Linked DNA regions of Homo sapiens. The protein of the gene in region 1 interacts with the protein of each later gene in a biochemical or structural test. Each region holds a gene or a part of one and is shown on either strand. Other genes may lie near its edges.

The links.
Region 2: the proteins of ATXN2 (region 1) and SH3GL2 form a complex in vitro, tested with the Homo sapiens proteins (one study listed by BioGRID).

What each region holds. Positions count from the first base shown.
Region 1 is NC_000012.12:111,511,936-111,519,683, forward strand, and holds part of ATXN2 (ataxin-2), read right to left. Parts: intron 6,493-7,748; coding exon 6,314-6,492; intron 4,429-6,313; coding exon 4,219-4,428; intron 1,605-4,218; coding exon 1,422-1,604; intron 1-1,421. UniProt on the Homo sapiens protein: Involved in EGFR trafficking, acting as negative regulator of endocytic EGFR internalization at the plasma membrane.
Region 2 is NC_000009.12:17,784,826-17,792,573, reverse strand, and holds part of SH3GL2 (endophilin-A1), read right to left. Parts: intron 6,194-7,748; coding exon 6,050-6,193; intron 5,195-6,049; coding exon 5,061-5,194; intron 3,183-5,060; coding exon 3,024-3,182; intron 1,344-3,023; coding exon 1,240-1,343; intron 1-1,239. UniProt on the Homo sapiens protein: Implicated in synaptic vesicle endocytosis. May recruit other proteins to membranes with high curvature. Required for BDNF-dependent dendrite outgrowth.

The sequences.
Region 1 (7,748 bases):
TTTGTTTTTGTTTCCTTAAGCTTGAAGATCTTGTTTCTTTTTTCTTTTTTTTGAGATAGAGTTTCGCTCTTGTCACCCAGACTGGAGTGCAATGGTGTGATCTTGGCTCACTGCAACCTTCACCTCCTGGGTTCAAATGATTCTCCTGCCTCAGCCTCTCAAATAGCCACCACACTCAGCTAATTTTGTATTTTTAGTAGAGATGGGGTTTCATCATGTTGGTCAGGCCAGTCTTGAACTCCTGACCTCAAGTGATCCACCCACCTCAGCCTCCCAAAGTGCTGGGATTACAGGCATGAGCCACAGCAACTGGCCGATCTTGTTTCTTTTAAAGGTTCTCTGGACTGATTAAAAGAGAAAAAGTGTTTTTTTTGTTTGTTTGTTTGTTTGTTTTAAGTATTCTTTGTAAGCTCTTGCTTACCACAGTTATGGGAACAAAGCACTAAGGACTGATTGGCAAAGTAGCAAAAGCAGTCAGCCTTATTGTAAAATCATGTCAACGTCTAGTTTTTAAACTTTTTTTTTTTTTTTTTTTTTGAGACAGAGTCTTGCTCTGTTGCCCATGCTGGAGTGCAATGGCGTGATCTCAGCTAACTGCAAGCTCCGCTTCCCGAGTTCATGCCATTCTCCTGCCTCAGCCTCCCAAGTAGCTGGGACTACAGGCACCCGCCACCATGCCCGGCTAATTTTTTTTGTACTTTTAGTAGGGACGGGGTTTCACCGTGTTAGCCAGGATGGTCTCGATCTCCTGACCTTGTGATCCGCCCACCTCAGCCTCCCAAAGTGCTGGGATTACAGGCGTGAGCCACCACACCCAGCCTAATTTTTATACTTTTATAGCTGCTGTCAGCATATTCCTTATGCTAATCACAAATAAAACTTGGACCCTTTATTTGTATTTGATATTCCTTATTATGGAAATATAGTTGGGAATTAGTGCCATATACAGATGCTATAGAAACACACTACAATGTAAGCCAAAAATAAATGTTTATAGAATGTACTGATAAACAAAGCTGCTAAAAAGATAAGGAAATACGGTCCCTCCAAATAGTGTTACATACTGTGTTTGCCTCATATTAGAGAGGTACTTTACAAAACTTTATAGTTTTACAATATATCTGTATTTATGAACCTTATAGGAATCTCATCACAATCCCATAATGTAGACTAGGCAAGAATTATTAACACTTTACTCACTGCGAAATCTCAACTTCAGAATGAGTGTCTGACTTGCTTTAATATATGATGAATAAGTGGTAGAGCCCAGAATAAAAATATGGGTTTCCCAATTCCTGGTGATTCTACTATTTTTAACATATACATACTTACACTTCCTCAAACAGAGTTGTAGCTCAGCCCTCTTTATATCTAGTGTAATGACAAAATGAGTACCATCATTATGCCCAAGTGTTACCTACCCCCACTGACCACTGATGACCACGTTCCCCCCGAGGGACTGGTCCTTGCTACTGGAGGAGTAGCTGCTTCACTGGGTGGGTTGTGGGATACAAATTCTAGGCCACTGGATATGGAACCCCTCCCAGCAGAAACTCTGTGATTTCGAGGATGTCGCTGGGCCTTTGGGGACATCCTTGGAGGCCCTAAGGAAGAAACAGTGAACATCACATAAATTCCATGATATTCATCAGTACTACTTTTCTGCTAAATACACCCATTCACACACACATGCACACACACTCACTCACTCTACAGTTTTTCCTTGGTTAAAAATAGAAAAAAAAAAAACACCATACATATTTTTTTGGCCATACTAATTCTTTCAGAATTATTTTGTGGAATGCCACAAAGTTTTATAAATAAATTTTATTATTTCCCTTTATTTTTAAAGAAAGGGAGGGATGAAGTTGGTGGTAAGAAATCAACAATAAGATGTCAACTCTTAAAAGAACTGTAGCAATCTGTTTCAACTATGTCTTATTTGTAAAGAAATATGTTACTAGAAATTATGACTACATGATAAAATATTTTTAACTTTCCATATATTTTACCTTTCCCTGACCCGAATTTTCTACATTACTTCTAAAATTAGAAAAAAAAAATTTAAACAGAAGACTATTAATCCCTATACACCCCGATACCACTAAAACATATGTACATACCCTTCTTAAATTTCTCTAAAATTTTAGTTTATTTATCTCTTCTATCATGATCATCAATTTTAAAACTCGGCTTAAAACAGTAAGCAGTAACCTGTAAGCAGTTTCTTAGGCTTAGCAGGCTGTGAGCTGAAAATTCTATTAAAGGGATGACTTGTATTAGTCTATTAATAGATGACCAAAATAACTGACATTTGGGGGAGAAATCAGCACTATATGAATTGTCAAAATTCTACATTATTGATTCTGCCATGCCACTAGTGACTACTCTTTCTAAATCAGTCTACTGTGCATTAGACCAATCTATCAGGTAAAAGAGTGGACAGAATGGCCCTCATCAGAGAAGCCTACTGGTGTTAACACCAAGCGAAAACTTCCCTAATGTCAAAGCCAAATCTCCTCACTCTCTCACCCGGCTGCCAAACTCTTTAGAACTTCAAATTAATATATGTTGCCAATAGAATTATTATTTTATTTTTATTTTTATAAGACAGAGTCTGTCTCTGTCGCCCAGGCTGGAGTGCAGTGGTACGATCTCAACTCACTGCAACCTCTGCCTCCCAGGTTCAAGTGATTCTCCTGCCTCAGCCTCCCAAGTAGCTGGGTATTTTTAGTAGAGACGAGGTTTCACCATGTTGGCCAGGCTGGTCTCAAACTCCTGACCTCAAGTGATCCACCTGCCTCAGCCTCCCAAAGTGCTGAGATTACAGGCGTTAGCCACCATGCCTGGCTTCCAACAGGAATTTAAACACGAACATGATCTTTAGAAGAATGCTAATGTTATACACTATAATTTTCAAATGGAAATATTCAACATCTCTGAATGACACAGAAAGTATATTTCTGTGTGAAGTTAATACATGAGCAGTCCTTAAATCTTAATGTAATAAAGATGTTCACAGTCATTAATGATCATGTTTTATTTAATATATTCTCATTAAATAAACATCGCTTACTCAAATGATGGACTACAAGAAAAATATCAACAGAATTTTGCATTTAGTGACCACTATTAAGGCCCTTTTGAGCAAAGAAGTCACCTTGAAAATCAGTGGAACTTGCTCTTCAAGGTTAGATGCTTCAGTCAAAGTCATATGACCTGCCTGCTTAGATGGTAACAATTTATTTAAAAGTAGCCAATACAGTTTTCTCCAGGGAAGCAGGAGAAACACATTTTGTGCGGAAAACTTTATTAGTCCCAACATAAGCAATATTAACTAATTTTAATGAACAAATCAGATTAAAATTTTAACACAAATATTCAGAACTAGTATCAAAAGGACATTATGATTCAGAAAACAGGTTTTTAATATATGGGTGGCATTTAAATTAGAATGTTACCTTTCTACAACATATCCCTGTATTTGATATGTGGCAATGATGGATTTAGCGCCAAATACTGAATAAGAATTACAAGATTTTATTCTTATTTTTGACGAGGAAAGAAATAGCTAAATATTCAAATTCATATGTCGTTTTTATCAATTTTATCTCAGATCAAGGACTTCTTCCAGATTAAAGCAGCCTTTCACTATGTAAGATTGCAAAGCTAACTTTAAAAAAATTACTCAGTTAAATTTAGAATTCTTCTGGCATTCTAAAAATCAACTACTTTAATCTAAGGGCAGACACGCAAAGTCAGCTACATGGGCTGTCGCTCTCAAAAAAGACCCAGAAAACACCATCCCTGCTTATGGCCAATAGGAAGGTTCACTAGGACCTTGGCCAAAGAGCTGTAAAATGAACCTAAGTTCAAGACTGGCTGAAGAAAGTTCATTTGTTTAACTACTGTATACAGTGCAAATAAGGAGGGGGAAGGCTGTGGGGCAGACCCTTCTGGGGCTGTAAAGAAGCATAATTATCAGGCAGAGATAAACCCCCTTTTTAACAACAATTCAAGAGAGTTTATAGCTTCACACATTTATCAAATTTCTCTCTAATGAACAAAAGGTTAATAGAAATAGTTTTAATAAACTAAAGTTAAAACACAGAAATTATAGGTTATTAAATAATGAAGAGGAAACTATTTTGTAATTATAAACTCACATAGGAGTTAAACAAAGACAAACAAAAACATGAACAAATTGTGGTATTGTACCTTCTGAAGACATGCGTTTAGGCATAGTAGAGACAGGAGCTGGAGAACCATGAGCAGAGGGGTGAGACGGGGGTCTGGATGGCCGCGAGGGGGGCCTGGAGGGCGGCCGTGTAGGGGTGGCTGCCCGAGGTGGAAGAGAGTTGGGACCTGACTGGTAGCGAGAAGGTGGGCGAGAGGAAGGAGATGGGCAAGGCGATGGCCAGGGAACACCTGACAGAACAAATGATATGAAGGAAAGTATAAAAACTAAAGAAAAAAATGAGGGAAAAAAGTAAACAGAAAAAAAGTAAAATGACAAAAATGATTTCTTGTACATTTTAACCCTTTGAGGACAGTCATTTGATTTGTGATAAGTTTTAGCATAACTTAACTGACATAAATTCACATTTTACTTTAACCTCCTTAAGATTAAGTCTGTTTAAATGAATACACGTTCCCAAAGGGTTAATTAGGATCTATACACACTATTGAAGAAGACAGTTAAGACTTTGCCTATTAATCCTGCTTCTATAACTGTTTCTCAGTAACTGGTTGTTTAAAGGAATATAACATACACTAGATAATTTCACATAATAAATCACAATAATTCCTACTCAGGAGTAAGATTATTTACTGTATTAGTTTTAACTCTGAGGCATAACGAAAATAAGCAGTAGCTATTATATCCAATTAGAAATGCTGGTTCCTTACAATTATCTATGATTTTCATCAGGTTTACACTTGAACCCAGAACTCAGTTTGGAATCTTATTAAGCAAGTCCCATTTAAGTAGAAATAAAACATTACTCTTCTAGAGTTTGTGACTCCTGTGAGTATCAAATGATAATATTCATTGCTATTTCAAAAAAAAAGTCTTGACCTCATTAAACTAGAAAAAGGGAGACCTTCTAAATAATTTATACAGTTAAACACTTATCTAAGCGACTGCTTAATAAATACTGCAACTACAAAGCAGTCATCACCAAATAAATTTATACTGATGGATATGCCTAGGTAAAGATACAGCTAGTATTTAACATTACATATCACTTACCTTAATCTTATCAAACAGTCCAGGTCTCCTCTCCATAGGGTTCCACACACTTAAGTATCATATATTTCTCAGCCCCCTTCAGGTTTTTTAACTTTAAAATTCTGTTTATAAACAACTAAAATCTTTCCTCAGTGAGCAAAGAAATTTCACCCCCAATATTAAGTACTGAAAATACTCAAGAGTGTCCATTTGGAGAGGAATTCTGGAGAAAAGACTCAATGAAAACAAATGAAATTGGAAACTTAGTGTTCTCTATTTTCATCTAACTTTCCAAATTTAAATAGCTAAAATTGAATGTCCACTCTTTTCCCACAAAGTTAGTAACATACTATTGCTATTACTATTTCCATACCATCCATAGAACTGTTGTTCAGTATCCCTGATTTATGGAAAAGATCCACAACCTACAAGATATATTCAACCTAGATTTAGAGGTAGAGTAAAAAATGTCTTCCTACTAAAGATTCAGGTTTCTTTTACTTAAGTTGCTAAACTGTAACATCCACCCTTAGACTAAGGGTTGTTTTTGTTGTTTTTTAAGCAAATTTCTCTAGTCACTTTCTTCACATGACTCTTGATCATGTCTTGTATTATAAGTTACCTCAGATCCTTTCTTGAAGTAAGCATAATATAGAAACAAATAATGAAAATTGATCTATATTAACCACAGTGTTGCACATAGGTTAGAATTTTCCATATAAATTATGTCTAAAAAATTTTATTATCCAGTGTTTTTAAAATTGAGAACCTACCCAAAGTTTCCAATTTCTTTATATGTGAAGTGTTTTTGGCCAAGTGATTGTCTTGGGTTAAATGTAGCACTTTATCTTAGTACATCATGAATATTTCATCATGCTAAATAATATATATGTCAATGACATATACAATGTTTTACTAATTTAATATCCACAAAAGCCAATTTTAAGTAATGCTGAAGTGAAAGCTACTCACCAAATCATTAAAGTGCACATTCATATCAGTTATGTAAACTATTTTAAGTATTTTAAGTATTTAGAAAACTATTTTATCAATGATATTGACAAGTCTGGTCAAAATACTTGCCTCCATTAACTACTCTTTGGTCTGAACCAGAATTCGGGTTGAAATCTGAAGTGTGAGAAGTGGATCTTGATGGCATGGAGCCCGATCCAGGCTGGCCCATACGCGGTGAATTCTGTCTCCCACTTCCCCAGGATATGACTTCTCTATTTCTTTGTCCAGGAGGAATATATTTATTTTCCCTGAAAATGAGAGATCCTCTAAATCATTTTATTCTAAAAGGTACCAAGCCAATGAAACATATCTAAAAGTCATCTAGACAGAAGGGAATGCTTGTTACAAAAAGGTTCTACACTAAACCAAACTGCCTCACTCCCAGATGCCCCTGTTCTTCCATCTTACCCTGAGTTCTAACCTCTGGACTGTCCCTTCCCTTAGATTCTGCTCCTAAGCACAAAGTTTAACAGATGCGTGCTCATTCTCATCCCACTTGACCTCTCTATGGCTGATTCCATCAATCTTGGTCTATCTTCACAACATTTTTTGTCCTTCACTTTCTCAATTTTATTTTCTCTGAGATCTCTTCTCTCACTGGCTGTTCTTTGGTTTTTCATGGCTCCAATATCGGCAATGCTGATGAAACCTCAAACTGAACCGCCAGTCTCACAGTGTCAACATCTATCAGTGGACATGTCAATTCAAATCACCAGACTCTAAGCTGACTGCCTTTAAGAGAGGATGCATCTCTTACTTTACTAGATAGGTAGCAGGTATTTCTCAACACGTTTATGAATAAATGAAAGACCCACAAGCCCACATATGCAATTAGCTGCACAAACGGAGTCACTGTTTTTCCCCTCAAACTTGCTCCATGTTTCCTCTCTCTCTTACCAGTACATCCATTAAGTCACTTAGTTATCAAATAAACCTCAGGCTCATCCCTTAACTAGGTGGTTACCAAATTCTCACAGTTGAACTATTTCAGTGCACTAACTGTTCTCTGTGTCTCAGCCAGTCCTCAATGCCCCAGGGTTTATTCACCCCATCTCCTTCCAACAGGGTGCTCTTTAGCATGACATGCCAAGTCCTTTAATGACCTCAGTTCCTACTATCAACTGCCACTGCTGCACCTGACACAGATCCTGTGTTCCAGACACATGCAACAACCAGCCCTCTCCTGAGCTGGCCAAATTTTCTCATAGCCATGCTTGTACATGGCTTTTCATCAGGTGATAAACTCTTCTCCCAACTCTTCTCTAAGTGTCAAAGACCCTATTATCTTATCACAAAATGTCACCTCCTCAATGAGGTTTTCTCTGACTCTACAGGTTATGCTAGCTCCTCCTCATTCTGTATGTTCCTAGTACTTTGAACATGCCTTTAACCAAGCAAATCATATTGTACTGCTGTGATTGTTACACGTGTCCCCCACCAGATAACTATTTTAACAAGCTCTTCAAGATCTTGGATTGCTCACCGTGATATACCAACACTTGGC
Region 2 (7,748 bases), on another chromosome or scaffold:
AAAGGAAAGAGGGAAGACAAAAGGAAATTGGAAAGGTATGGCTAATAATTGTCTTCTACATACCCCTAAATATTTTCCAAAGTTTCAGTTATTCAATAAACAAAGTATGTAAGAGATATGCAAGGGAGGGCGAGGGTTTAGGGTATGGTAACTGTAGAATGATACTGACTTTGAACATATTTCAGAGGAAAAAAAGGAAAGGGCTCCCTTCATGCTCAAGAGACATTACAAAGACACATAGTATTTCTTTAGTATCTTTGAAGTATATGGTTTTAAAACCTTTCTGGAGGCTTCAGCATTACATAAATTTCCATAAGGCTGCGCCGAAGGAAAATGCTCAATTAAACCATGAATCAAAGAAAATACTGAAATGAGATCAGCCTGAGGGAAAACAACGAAAACAGGTGTGGAATCGTATGATTGGTGTCTTCTTCACGCAGGCAGCCATGTGATCAGCTGTGAGAGTCTAATCTGGCCATGTGGCCTAAGAAAAAAGCTTGCTGAGGTGACCCTTTGAGGTATACATGTTCAGCAAAATCATCCTGTTTAATCTGGCTAAATTAAAATAACACATATTATAACATAGGGCCACTGGTATATAGCCAAACAGGCTGTGCCCCACAACTCCACGGAGCCACATTCACACGGTAGTTTCCTACTACTACAGCCCTGCTGTGAGGTACATCTAATGAGGTGAAAGTAGCTCTCTCTGATGGCAGAGGACTTGACCGCCATTCAGAGAAACACAAGATGTGAAAAGAAACAGCCTCTCACACAGGTTATGGCTGGCTGTGAACTCCACTTGCACCACTGAGTGACCCTGGGCTAGTTACTTCACCTCTCTTAGCCTCAGTTTACTCATCTGTTAGTCGAGGCTAAAAACACTTAGGTTACAGGGCTGTTATAAGATTGATGATGATATGTATCCAGTACCCACATGGAATAACTGCTCAGCAAATGGCATCCATTATCAGCAGTAGCATCCTGGTGTTCCACCTGTGGCAGCCAAAATATAATCCAAGTATCGATCTCTCATAAGCAGAAAATTAGATTCAACAGAACAACGTAAAACAAAGCACAAGAAAAAACAAAATCAAAACAATCCACAAGGCGCCTCTGTAGGATAAGCGGAATTTTGGCAGACGTTTGTCTCCAAATGTATTCTATGATTTCCATTTCTTTATACATCATTTTATAGCAATAAAATGCAAATGTGAAATGCAGGGAACTGTAGAATACCTTTCTTCCAGTCTGACCGTGACTTGCTGCAGGATCTGGACTGCCTGCTTGTGGTACTCCAGCTGAGCTTGCACAAGTGCAGAGAGCTGGCTCACTTGTTCAATCTGCAGATTGATGGGAAAATCATGCCTTAGTTTTACACGTTACCATCCCTAAACAGCCACTACTGTTTCATACATACACCAGGGCTGCCCTCAACACACAGCCCCTGGTTGGTGGTGCTGATGACTGTGTGATAAGCCAACTAAGATAGATAGTTCTGCAGGTTTCAAATCCATCAAGGATAAAAGAAAGCATCCTTATGCTTAGAATCATGCGTATCAGTACCATGAGGAGAAGCAACATGGGTAACCCTCAGGAAGACCATATAGCTCTAAAGAGTCTCATGCTTAGCTACAATCTTGTATCTGGGATTTGACTTCTTTTATTCTATAGAAAAGAAGGTACACTGGCCAAAGGACTCTTTGTTCCTTATACTTTTCATGCTGTTAATATCGGTACTGTTAATAAAAATGTGACAATATCTCACATAATGTACCCGGAGAGGCGACATGGTATGACAGAAAATCTTCTGTGCTCTCTGAGCCTCATCTGTAATGTAAAAGGGTTAAATCAAGTGACATCTTGAGTTCATTCTTGCTCTAATATTCTAAGCTTGATTTCTCTTGATTTTATGTTTCACATTATGATCCAGCTGGGTAGCAGCCTCCAAGTCAACAGAAGCAGTGTTGTCCCATGAATTTGGGGATGGGGAGGGGTGCTGTGTTGCAGGGAAGGAGCACTGTGATTTGGAGCACCCCTCATGCACACAGTATTCCTCTCGAGGAGTTAGGTGGACACAAGTTGTTTTACATAAACAAAAACCTACACTGTCTCCAGGTGGTAGGAAAGTCTGGATATGTTCAACACACTTCCCCTGCCACAGTCAGGAGTAAGGCAAGTAGGCAATGTGATGGTTAATTTTAGGTGACAACTTGACTAGATTAAGGGATCCCCAGATAGCTGGTAAAGCATTATTTCTGGGTGTGTCTGTTAGGGTGTTTCCAGAGGAGACTGGCATTCACTTAGTAGACTAAACAAAGGAAGAGCTGCCCTTCCCTATGGGGGTGGAGACCACCCACTCAGCTCAGGACCCAGATAGAATAAAAAGCAGAGGAAAGGCAAGTTTGTTCTCTCTCTCTTCTAGCGAAGGGACACCCATACGCTCCTGTCTTTGGATGTCACAGCTCTAGGCTTTCTGGCCTTTGGACTCTGGGACTTGCACCAGTACTACTGATGCCCCCTGCTCCACAACTGAGTTCTCAGGCCTCTATTGAGTTATACATAGATCCTCAGAAATATCCTTTATCTTCCCACTATTGATAAGAGAGATGGTCCCTGACTTTACGATTTGTAGGCTTTATGATGGTGCAAAATTGATATGTGCTCAGTAGAAACCATACCTCAAGTACCCTTACAACCATTCTGTTTTTTACTTTTAATGCGTTATTCGATAAATTACATGATATATTCAAGACTTTAACCCCATCATAAGTTAAGGAGCATCTGTACTTTAAGATTCATTAGCAGTCGAGAATCTAGTTAAACTACAGGAATGCAGAAGAAACTTTTCTATTTCTCAGTCTACTTTATGACTGACAATTATTTAAAATAAATAACTATCTACTGAAGTTCTTATCACATAGTGTAATCAGATATTAATGCTTTTAAGGGTTATGGCCTTTAACATATTAATGTTGTGCCTCGATGATAAGATTAAATTGAAAACCACAGGAGTCACTTACATCCATCTCCAAGAGATTGAACATGCTTGACTCAGCAATTTCCTTAGACTCATCAAATTTCTCTAGAGCTTGACGAAGCTCTTCATCCGGAATCTTGCCTTGTCGTTTCTTCTTATAATCAAAATCCAGGCGTCGACCCTCCAACTTCTTTAGATGATGCTGCAAAAGTCAAGGGCAGGAATAGGCTTTGAAAGGGCTTATGGAAAAGGCTTATTTGAGCTCACTTCTCCATCACGTCCATTAACTTCCAAATTAAGATAGGCTAAGTTTTAAAATACAACGCCACCAGAGAAATAAAGAAACATGCATCAATGGGGCCAGTGCTTTCAAAGGCTAAATATGGGGGAATATCTTTAAAAATAATTAAGAATAAAAGATAAATTATAGGAAATATCAGTGCCCTTTATTTTCTGGCCTTGTCAGGCCAAAGCCAAGCTGGACTAAGCCTTTGCAGCCCATGACAGAAACAGAGAAGGAATGCACATGCCCTACACACAATGAAAGGACACACTCACAGGCCCCACAGGCCCTGTCTTCAAGAGAAATGGTATCTCATGAGAAGCCAGAGGAAAAACTCTTTCCTTGAAATTAAGTGAGATAGAAATGGCAGTCTTGCTTTTCAAATCATCCAGTCTGTTAGAATCACGTAAGTTGCTCATCACAATATGGATTCCTGAGCTCTTGAATCGATATCTAGGGTGGGGGCCTAGGAATCTACATCTTAACACTTGCCCCAGCTGACTGATGCAGCTGTCACCAGAGAAACTAAATCCAGTGATTTAGTTTAAGCCTCCCACTTGACATATAATTGAACTCAAGAACAAAATCTCACTTGGAAGGGACCTACCAAGGGATTATATCTAATGCTCCATGCTGAGCTTCAATCCCCTCCTTGCACCATACCTGGTAGATGGCTGCCCAGGCTCCACCCATCATCTCTAGTGACCAGGTAGCAAAGTAGTTTTCCAAAGCTAAAAAGTATTGTTTTTCCCCGATAGCTAGTCTTTCACTACTAATGGATGAAGGAAAATCCTGGATTTTCCCTTGTTACTAGTATGTATGGAGCAGAATGAAAGGAAATGAAAACAAAGTAGGGAGTAGTTAAAAAAATGAAAAGGAAAGGAGGAAGAATAATATTCTAAACCTTCCCTCACACTGCATCCCCCGCCCCTCAGTCCATGCCCTGATCCAAAAACTAAATGCTCATTTGGAAGGAACTTTCTTTTTTAAACATTTGAGCTATAGGGTACAGCATTGGAGTCAGAGTTCTATTTTGGATTTAGGGTCAGTCTGTCACTTACTAACTCTATAATCTTGAGCAAATGGTACTGCTAAAGGAGATTTAAGCTAGAATAAGGAGGAGGAGGCCCTAGTTCAAGTTATGGCAATCCATTTTACACCCAACAAAGTTTCAAAAAAGCTCAACAAATATTTGTTAGATAAAAAAAAGTGAGCAAACATTCCACACTCAAAGACATATGAACTTTATTATAAACAGCTCAACTGCTCTACATGTTTTAGAAAGTGGCTAGTTGGTATTCTTCCTCAATCCTAACAACCATTATGAAAATATTAATATAAAAACACATAACATCCATCTAATTTCTAGACTTGGAAAAAAATAAAAATATGTGCTTATGCAGTGATAGAATAACTATTTATTTAAGCTAACAACTAGTACAACTAACATTTTAGTGGGTGAAATCAGCCCAGCAAACCATAGAATAATTAACAAAACTGTGTATTCTCAGGAAAAGTATATTATCCTCTGGAGAAAAAGTCTGAAAAAAACTATTCAATATGAAAATCAAACATAGAGAAGCCAGAGACAGCCCTCATGAGTGGCACAGTCATAACAGGCTGAAAAGTATCACATTTCTGGTTTCTCTCATTTTGTCTTACTGGGTTGTTTTGTAATTAACGTGCCCAGAGCTGACAACACACAGGGTAAGCTAAAAAAATGTTTTCTAAAGAAAAAAGGCATCTGCATCTGTATGATTTCAACTGCCCACTTTCCAGAAGACTCATTGTACATACTTGAATTTCCCTAAGATCTTTGTCATGAAGATTCTGAAGAGGGTCAATGAAGTTCTGCTTCACTTCTATGTCCAAAGAGTCTTTGACCTCCGACAGTTCCCGCATGGCCTCCCCGACCTCACCAAGTGCTGGGCCTAGGAGAGAATAAAGCTCTTTCATGTTACAGAATAAAGATGAAATGCACTCGCAATAACAGGGCCCTTCACAGATGAAAACCCAAAGGATTACCACTTGTCTTCTAAAGACAACAGACAAGAGAGAATAGGTATCTTCAGTTCACTCCAGGCAACAGACTCAATGCCCCCTAAGAGGGTAAATACCTCTCATCAAGAATGGAACAGTTACTTTTTCCTTTAAGAAGCAATTTAGGAAGCTCCCTGCCCTCTCTTGTAAGTACCAGCTTTCCCTAATGTGGGACTAGCTTAAGGCAAATCTATTAGCAGAAGCAAGTACCAGAAATAGCCGGGTTCAACCAGGAAGGAGATCCCACATCACAAGGGGGTGAAAATAGAAGATGTTGGGTGTGGTAGCTGAGTTTTGGGGGAGACAGGGTGAAGGAATAAATCATGTCTCACCTTGGGCAGTAGAACTAGGTACCATATACAAGTGAGCAAAGATCTATGAAAAAGGCCATGAGGCAGGGAGGGCTTTGAATCATGCTGACTGTGCCTGCTCACTCTGCTTCAATACTCAATGACTGCCAGAAACACCCAATAGAAAGTGCCAAGGAGGCATCTGGATATGTCAACCAAAGCTGTTGTAAAGACTGAGGTCTTATAGTGGGGGGGGTGGGAAGAAAACTTGTAAGATAAATCACATTAGAGCGGATGAAATAATTCTGAAAACAAATTTTTGGCCCATGTGTGTAGGATCTAAAACTGAAAACCAAAATATAAAATGATTTGACCGATTCCCTACAGAATTTCTTACCAGCACCAAAATCCCCATGGACAAATGAAAGAATTACAATGTGAGGAAGCACTTGTTACCAAAGTTGCAATCATCTCCAAGCTCTCTTCCAAATTTGAGCATGGCCTCTGCCAGCAGCGCCTCTGCCTGAGGATAGCCTGGCCCCTTCTCCTGGCCACGGATTTTTGACATGGTGTTGATCATGCTGAGCTTAGCTCTGGAAGCTGAAGGTGAAGAGAGAACAAGCTTTCAGAGTAGGCAATGTGACACTGCGGAAATAGGGCTGGATGGAGGATCAGGTCTCAGAGCAGCCTACAAAGTAGCTCAGCTACTGATAAGTGTACCTTCAGTACGCTCCAGTGTTCTCTCCGTCAGTCAGTCTTATCAACCACTTTTTTAAAGCACTAAACTCTCCCTTTCCCTTAAGATCTTAAAATGAATTACAGCAATTCTGTTCTGGATGAAGCAGGATTACACGCTCAAATTCTATCACTGTGTGCCCTTCCCCATCCTCCCTTCACTGTGGTGGCCCCTGCAGTGACTCTGTGGAGCTGGGTGCTTCCATGGAGAGCTTTTTACAAACTCTCGAATTATGTGATGATCTCTAAATTTTATTCTAGTTTTATAGTTCAATTCTAGGAGTCTAAGGATTAAAATAAGGAACCAATGGTAAATTCCTGCAGAGTGGGCCTTATGCCTTGTTTCACTTATACCATGTATGAAACAGAACTATTTTCAAAATCATTTCTCAACTAAGATTCTGATGGTAAACAGACCCATGAAGAGCAAAAATACTGTGTTCATTTAAAAGACTTAATCACTTCTCCAGCACATAACTAGAGAAAATTAGTTTTGTGCCTCAAAGAGAACATTTCAATTTCTCTTTCTTTGTTTTTGTTTTTATAAAAGAAGTTGCCTAGAAACCAATTCCAGTGTTAGTGGCAAAAACAGCTTTATTAAAAAAATTGTTAAAGCCTATGACTTAATTGATGCTAGGATACCTAGGTTCCTCAGGTTCAAAATTAGAGTTGGGATTACACATTAACCTAGGACTATACCCCAAATCCCATCTTCAATGGAAACCCCAGATAGAATCACAGCTTAAGGTACTTCCAGCATTCAGTGGCTGACAATCTTGACATTTATTTCACAAGGCTTTTATTTAAACTTTGAGTCTTAGAGGCATTGAATAGAGATGAGAAAAGTTATCAGGAGAGCACATCCTGCAACCCTGTCCCAGGGATATTACAATGAGCACGACAATTATGGTCCCTGCTTTCACAAAGTTTATAATGAACTGAGGGTAGAGTCTATTTTAAAATTAATTAGAGTGAAGTAAATATGCCAAGTGCCTTGATGGGGGATTGAGGAGAGTCCCAGATATGCGGCACTGTCCTCATCAGTTGGGGAGGGGCATCGCAAAGGATTCCTGGAGGGAAGTATCTTTAAGTTTAGATCCAAACAGTATGTAGCAGTTAGGCTAACAGCACATGTAAAGGCTGGTGGTGACTGGAAAAAATATAAAATTCATTTCTTATTTGCTTTTTCATATAAAAGGGATCATATGTTAAGTTTGAAAAATAGAAAATGCAGGCTAAGTGTGGTGGCTTATGCCTATAATCCCAGCACCTTTGGTGCCCAAAGCAGGAGGATCATTTGAGGCCAGGAGTTTGAGACCAGCAAGGCAACATAGCAAGACCCCATTTCTACAGAAAAATTTAAAAGTTAGCAGGGCATGGTGGTGCCCACCTGTAGTCTCAATTACTAGGGAAGCTGACG